Linked DNA regions of Homo sapiens. The protein of the gene in region 2 interacts with the protein of the main gene of each other region in a pairwise test. Each region holds a gene or a part of one and is shown on either strand. Other genes may lie near its edges.

Region 1 (3,820 bases), on a different chromosome or scaffold from region 2:
TTTATGTTTTCTAGATCACTCAGGCTGCTGTGCAACAGATGGGCTGTAAGTAGGAAAGAGCAAAAGCTGGTAAACGTGGAGACTTCAGTGTAGGTGGCTTCATTTTCCACTGGGGTGGTACCCTGCTCTTCTCCATGGACACGAAGGAGAATCGTGTACTCTGTCTTTAAAAAAGTAGAACTTTTGATGTTTGAGACCGCTGGTCGCCGTGTCGGGTGGGGAGTGGTTGTGAGCAGAAAAAATAGTAAATCAAGGAGTAGATAGCTTCTATTTATGTGTGTTACGTTTGATTCAGGAACACAATGTACCTTTCATTCCGTCAACAAATATTGAATGCCTGCTGCACACCAGGCACTGTTCTAAATGCTTCCAAGTCCAAGTGCCTGGTCCCCTTTCTCCATATGTAGTAAATAATTATTATGACTAATAAAAAATCCATCACATACTCATTATTGGTTCCCCTGTTTAATCACCTGTAGTCTTTGAACATTTTATTTCCTATAGAGCACACTTGGGGGGAAAAAAAGCTAAGGAGAATGCCACCATCACCCCAAAACTTAAAAGGTCTGAGAATAGACAGGCATTGGCCGACACGATAATGGAATGGGGAAGCAACTGTAGAATCAAAACAGGGCCGTTTTGGAATTGCGATGACTAAGGGAGGAAATGACAGGGGCCTGAAGGGGAAATAGCTTAAAAGGAGGAAGGTGGGAGGCTGGTAAGAGAGCTGCCACGGAGGGGGAGATTAGAACACTCCAACTTGAGTTGCAAAAAAAGGAAATACATTTTTTAGGAACCATTTCCAAACATAACGCCTATGAAGTGTTTGTTCAGGGGAAGAGCAGCCTTGTACACACACCTACGAAAAGCATAGTCGACACTGAGAAGACTGAGAAGAATATGCGTGGCCTCTTGTTCCTGGGAAAGCATCCCCAGCTCTCAGTGTGGGAGATCCTGCACTTCCCCCACACCACCCCCGCTCAGGCTGGAGTACAGTGGCACAATCTCAGCTCAGTGCAACCTCAGCCTCCTGGCTTAAGTGATCCTCCCACCTCAGCCTCCCAAGTAGCTGGGGCTTCAGGCATGCACCACTGTGCCCGGCTAATTTTTGTATTTTTAGTAGAGGTGGGTTTTTTTTCACCATGTTGCCCAGGCTGGTCTCGAACTCCTGTTTTTAAGTGATTGGCCCACCTCAGCTTCCCAAAGTGCTGGGATTACAGGCGTGAGCCACCGTGCCCGGCTAGGCTCTGCACTCTTAAAACTCCTCTAGGAGGCCAGGCACAGTGGCTCATGCCTGTAATCCCAGCACTTTGGGAGGCCAAGGCAGGTGGATCATCTGAGGTCGGGAGTTCAATACCAGCCTGACCAACATGGAGAAACCCCATCTCTACTAAAAACACAAAAATTAGCTGGGCTTGGTGGTGCACGCCTGTAATCCCAAATACTCAGGAGACTGAGGCAGGAGAATCGCTTGAACCCAGGAGGCGGAGGTTGTGGTGAGCCGAAATCACGCCATTGCACTCCAGCCTGGGCAACAAGAGCGAAAACTCCATCTCAAAAACAAACAAACAAAAGAAAGCTCCTCTAGGAGATGAGTGTGGACTGTGAAAAAGTTATTCACAGGCAATTTGAGGCCACCTACCTGGCCACTCAGAGAGTTTCTCCACGAGTTTATGTTAGTGAATGTATTGTTCTTTTCCTTTGAACAACTGCTTCACCTTATCATCAAGAGCAGCTTTTGTTTGCTCTACATGTTCTGGACAGCCCAGGCAGTCTGTCTTTTGTGGGGTTAGGGAGGGACAGGGGGCAAAAGAGCAGTAGGGTCATCCCTGTGTCTTGGAGGTGTTTGCCATCTGGTTAACAGTAAGTGAAAAGTGCTTTGTGGAATGTTCACTTTGGGTTCAGAAATTTTCTTTTAGAGACAGGGTCTCACTTTGTCACCCAGACTGGAGTGCAGTGGCGTTATCATAGTTCACTACAACCTCAAACTCCTGGGCTCAAGCAATCCTCCTGCCTCAGCCTCCCAAGTAGCTGAGACTACTGGTGCACGCCACCATGCCCATCTAATTTTTTTTTTTTTTTTTGTAGAGATGAGGGGCTCTCCCTATATTGCCCAGGCTTGTCTCGAACTCCTGACCTCAAGCAGTCCTCCTGCCTCAGCCTCCTAAAGCACTGAGATTACAGGAGTGAGCCACCACACCCGGCCCAGGTTCAAAAGTGAGAGTCTCCCCACGGTTGAAAGGGGAATAGAAGCACAAGAGTCAGTAATCAATAACAAACAACTCAAGGTGCTCCTTCCTTACACTGGTGTTCCCCAAAGTGAGGTGAATTGCCAGCCACTGGGAGTCAGGGCCAGTTACATAAGACATTCTCGGTAAGCCCCCTTTGGGTATCCCAAATAAGGACTGGGGTGGGTTTATGTGTAGTCCATTATTAACAACTAAACGAACAAACCTAGTGAATTGCAATAAATTCACACCAACAGAACAAAAGAAGAAAAGCTTAAACAAAAGAGTGGCTCCTTGCTTTCCTGAAGCACCTCTAAAAATGACCATAGAAAGATGGAAAAGTTTGGTGAACAAGCCTGAACCTTCACTCATTTCTCTGTCATGCATTAAACAGCTTGAGCCAGCTTTGAATTCTTCCGGGTCAATCAAATGGAAGTGCCCTGACTGCAGGCATGCCAGAGGATTTCAAGTGTGGTGCACAGAACAGTTTTTGTACAATACTGGTGTATCTTGATTTGCATTCAAACAAACTAAAACTAGCTCATCAAACCTGTAATTTCATGGGTAACATCGCTGAGGGACAGTTGTTTTTTAATTGACTCAATTTGTTATTTTACCTAAAAAATTGTAGTGGCACGTGGATATGACAGGAAGCAGGCAGTTGCTAGACACAAAACCCTTTAGAAACACAGGCTGGGGGCTGGGTGTGGTAGTCCACGCCTGTAATCCCAGCACTTTGGGAGGCTGCAGTGGGAGGATCGCTTGAGCCCAGCTGTTGGAGACCAGCCTGGGCAACATAGCGAGACTATCTCTACAAAAAATTTTTAAAAGTAGCTGGGTTTGGTGGCTCATGCCTGTAGTCCTAGCTACTTGAAAGGCTGAGGTGGGAGGATCGTTCGAGCCCAGGAGTTCGAGGCTGCAGTGAGCTGTGATCGCGTCACTGCAGTCCAGCCTGGGTGACAAAGTGAGACCCTGTCTCTAGAAAAGAAAAGAGAAAAAGAAACACAGGCTTAGACAAAGTTTTCTTCTAATTGGTGTCGGCATAATTGCTTACGACCCATCAAATAACACAAAACTCCTTCTTTCTTTATGCCTTTCCTCACTTTTTTCCTTAAAAAAAGAAAAAAGGAAAGAGGGAAGGAAAGGAAAGGAAGTTAGAGAGAAAAGCACCTGCATGTTATTTTCTCTGTAATCCCTCAGATGGCTTTCATGAACTAAGAGGTAAGAGTAAGAGAAGAATTCATGGGAAATGTAGATTTTGCAGCTGGATGGGAACTTTGGCGATTGCCCTGGGAAGCTATCTCACTTTCAGGTGAAGAAACTGAAACCCAGAGAAGTTCTGTTACTTGCCTCCTCCTTCGGTGGGTTTTTCATGAGCAAGGGTGAAATTGTCAGCCCCTTGACTTGATCCAACAGTTCCCCAAACCAAATATCTTAAGCAATAACTCAGGGACTTAGCTGGCAAGGAATAGACTTGGCGGTGGCAGGCAGTGGCAAGGCTGTGAATGAACACACTACGATCTCTGGAGCACTTTGAGTTGGAGAATGCAGTCTGGTATGACATGGGCCCATCTTGGGCCACATCCATGATA
Region 2 (3,820 bases):
TTTGGCCACCCAGAGAGACAGCAGGGGTGTCCAGTAGCTCCCAAAGGGAAGAAAGACCTTGTGAAGAGGTAGCCAGAGGGTGGCCATATGCAAGGAAAGAAGGGAGACCTCAAGAGAAATCAATCCTGCTGGGACCCTGATTTTGGACTTCCAGCCTCCAGAATTATGAGAAAATTAATTTCTGTTGTTTCAACCATGCAGTCTGTGGTACCTTGTTATGGCAAAAACTTATATACTAACATTCACGCAGTATTCTTCACAATAGCAAAGGTGGGAACAATCCAAGCATCCATCAGCAGATGAGCAGATAAACAACATGTGGTATATACACACAAGGGAATACTATTCAGCTATAAAAAATCATGAAAATTTGATATTTGTCACAACATGGATGAACCTTGAAAATATTATGCTTAGTGAAGTAACTCAGTCATGGGAGGACAAATACTGTAGGATTCCACTTATATGAAGTACCTAGAAAAGGCAAATGTATATGAAGACAGAAATATTAGTGGTTGTCAGGGGCTGGGGGAAGTGAGGAATGACTGTTTAATGTGTACAGCATTTCCTTTTGAGGTGAAGAGTACGGTTTTTGTTTTGTTTTGTTTTTTGAGACGGAGTTTTGCTCTGTTGCCCAGGCTGGAGTGCAGTGGCATGACCTCGGCTCACTGCAACCTCTGCCTCCCAGGTTCAAGCAATTATCCTGCCTCAGCCTACTCAGTAGCTGGGACTACAGGCGCCCGCTAACACATCTGGCTAATTTTTGTATTTTTAGTAGAGACGGGGTTTCACCATGTTGGCCAGGCTGGTCTCGAACTCCTGACCTCAGGTGATCTGCCTGTCTGGGCCTCCCAAAGAGCTGGGATTACAGGCCTGAGCCACCGCGCCTGGCCAGAGTATGTTTTCAAACTAGAGGTGATGGTTACATAATACTGTGAATTTACTAAAGGACACCGAATTGAGCATTTTAAATGGTTAATTCTATGTTATATGAATTTTACCTCAATTTTTTAAAAAGGCATAAATACACTAAAATAAAAACGCCCTATGAGGAACATACAATGCCTGAGGTCCATGTATTTTATTATGGCAATTCAGGTCTGATATGATACAGAAGAGAAAGCCTGCACGTGTGTGTGTATATATGCGCTTACGTGTGTCACACATGACGTTTACATCCATATGATACCGCAAAACAGTCCAGCATAAACCTCACTGTCTGAACTTACCAGTGCAAACCTGTGTCCAAAGCTTATCCACTCCTTTTCTACGAGAGTTTCAAATCCTTTAATGGTCCTGTAGTAACTGTCCAACATTAGCATAGCCAGAGATGTGAGCTGGGCTGTTCGGTCCCAACCGTCGCTGCAATGCACCACCACAGATGTTTTCCCAGATTCTATTTTATCAGCAATTCTTACTGCCCCAGCAAGCAGCATCTTCAGAAAAAAAAGGCACATTAGACCAGGCTACATTGAATTTCAATTAAATGTAAAACAATGTAAAATAATTCTGGGGAGAGCTTTGGAAGTTCTGGTCAATAAACCAAGCAAGAATGGCAGGCAATCAGCTGAGAATCACTAGGAAATATTAGCATCACATTAAAAAAATAAAAAGAAAAGAAAAAATCTTATACTGGAGAAAAACTACAGGAGTAAATATGGTTCCTTATTAAAGGGCCACGAAGTTCTTTAAAAGCCTGACCTAAGGCAAGCATTTTTCCCTTTTCACTATGTCACAAAAGCCCTCCACAAAGACCCCAGTCTGATGCTGTCCATGGAAACTATTGAATAAGAAAGTTCATGCACACAGCCAAGAGGCACTTGGAGATATACGTATTTATGGCACAGGCACAAAGAAGTCTTAACTGGAAAGCATATAAAGTGCTGGATCTCTTTACCCTTATATATTCCAGCCAATGCGTCCCATCCACATTGGAGAGCCACCGCGCCTCATCGATCGAAGGGTACACAATCTCTTTTAATTTGCGTAGTGACTCTCGCATGACATGAATGTTGTGGATCTCCAAGAACACAAGTTCTGCATTTGGGTAAGCACTTTCACTTTCATATCCTCCACCCTTTGTCTACGAAAAACAAAACAAATACATCACATTATCTGGAATTAACTTTTCTATTCTTTCTAGTGCTATGAGATACAGACCACTAAAGAAGCAACAAACTCATCTGCAAATAAACCTCCTATATCCTTGTATGAGTTTCCTAGGGCTGCTGGAAAAAGAACCACAAACTCAGTGGCTTAAAACAACAGAAGTTTATTCTCTCCTAGTTCTGGAGGCTGGAAGTCTGAATTCAAGGTATCGGCAGTGCCATGCTTCCTCCGAACACTCTAGGGGAGGATCCTTCCTTGGCTGCCCCAGGTTCCGATAGTCCCAGGTGTTCTTGGCTTATACACACATCATTCTGATCTCTGCCTCCATTTCCACCTGACCTTCTTTCCTTTGTCTGTGTCTGTCTCTTCTCCTCTTCTTCTAAGGACACAGTCATTTGGCTTAACCCCCACCCCCCAATTCAATATGACCACATCCTAACTTAATTACATTTACAAAGACCCTATTGTGAAATAAGGCCACATTTATAGGTACTTGGAGTTAGGACTGCAACATATCTCTGAGCTAACAGTGGGATGTGCTTAAGGAACTGAAAAGAACCTCACATAGCTGAGACATGGACCTGGAAGATGTGGCGAGACAGGAAGGAAAGGACCCGTGGGTGGAGGGCTTTGGAGACCCTGTTCAGGAACCTGGATATCACTGCCTTGCGGCTCTGAGGGATGTGCACAGAGTTGTCCACTGAGAAGATCACTCTGTACAACATGGTGACTACAGTCAATAACAATGTAGTCTGTATCTGAAAACTGCTGAGAGTAGATTTTAAGTGTTCTCACCACAAAAAATGGTGTGTTAATTAGCTTGATTTAGCCATTCCACAATGTGTACACAATCAAAATACCACGTTGTACACCATAAATATATACAATTCATTTATCAATTGAAATAGTAACAATAAGTTTTTTTTAAAAAAGAAGATCACTCTGGTCATAATGTGGAGATGAGATTGCAGGGTGTGAGGCAGAAGTCCAATTTCAAGGTTCCTGCTGTAGGTGAGGTAAGAGATGATGGGTCATCCAAAAACTAGAAGAGGAGGGCATACTTCCTAGTTCATTCCATGAGGCTAGCTGTATCCTGATACCAAAGCTAGACAAAGACATCACAAGAAGAGAAAACCACAGATTAACATCCCTTATGAAAATACATGCAAATATCCTCAACAAAATACTAGCAAACCCAATCCAAGAGTATATGAAGGGGACTGATCACATACCATGAACGGGTGGGATTTATCCCAGGAATGTAAGGAGGTTTTATTAGCTTCCTAAGGGTGCTATCACAAACTGGGGGACTTAAAACAACATAAAATTTATTCTCTCACAGTTCTGGAGGCTGAAAGTCCGAGATCAGGGTGCTGGCAGAGTTGGTTCCTTTAGGAGGGTATAGGGAAGAATCTGTTCCATGTCTCTCTCTTAGCTTCTGGTGGTTGCTGGAAGTCCTTGGCACTCCTCAGCTTCTAGCTGCATCATTTAAATCTCTGCCTCTATTGCCACATCGCCATCTTCCTTCTGTGTGTGCCTGTGTCTCTACATGGCTTTCTTATACGGACACTAGGCACTGGATTTAGGGCCAACCCTACTCCAAGATGGCTTCATCATAATTAATACATCTGCAAAGATCCTATTTCTAAATAAGGTCACATTCTGAGGTTCCAGTTGGACAAACTTTTGGGAGACATTTTTCAATCCACGA

The links.
Region 1: the proteins of MTMR1 (region 2) and CASS4 interact in a two-hybrid assay, tested with the Homo sapiens proteins (one large-scale study listed by IntAct).

What each region holds. Positions count from the first base shown.
Region 1 is NC_000020.11:56,418,489-56,422,308, forward strand, and holds part of CASS4 (cas scaffolding protein family member 4), read left to right. Parts: intron 1-3,820. UniProt on the Homo sapiens protein: Docking protein that plays a role in tyrosine kinase-based signaling related to cell adhesion and cell spreading. Regulates PTK2/FAK1 activity, focal adhesion integrity, and cell spreading.
Region 2 is NC_000023.11:150,734,858-150,738,677, reverse strand, and holds part of MTMR1 (phosphatidylinositol-3-phosphate phosphatase MTMR1), read right to left. Parts: intron 3,215-3,820; coding exon of another isoform or gene 3,179-3,214; exon of another isoform or gene 2,977-3,178; intron 2,084-2,976; coding exon 1,898-2,083; intron 1,437-1,897; coding exon 1,230-1,436; intron 1-1,229. UniProt on the Homo sapiens protein: Lipid phosphatase that specifically dephosphorylates the D-3 position of phosphatidylinositol 3-phosphate, generating phosphatidylinositol. Could also dephosphorylate phosphatidylinositol 3,5-bisphosphate to produce phosphatidylinositol 5-phosphate.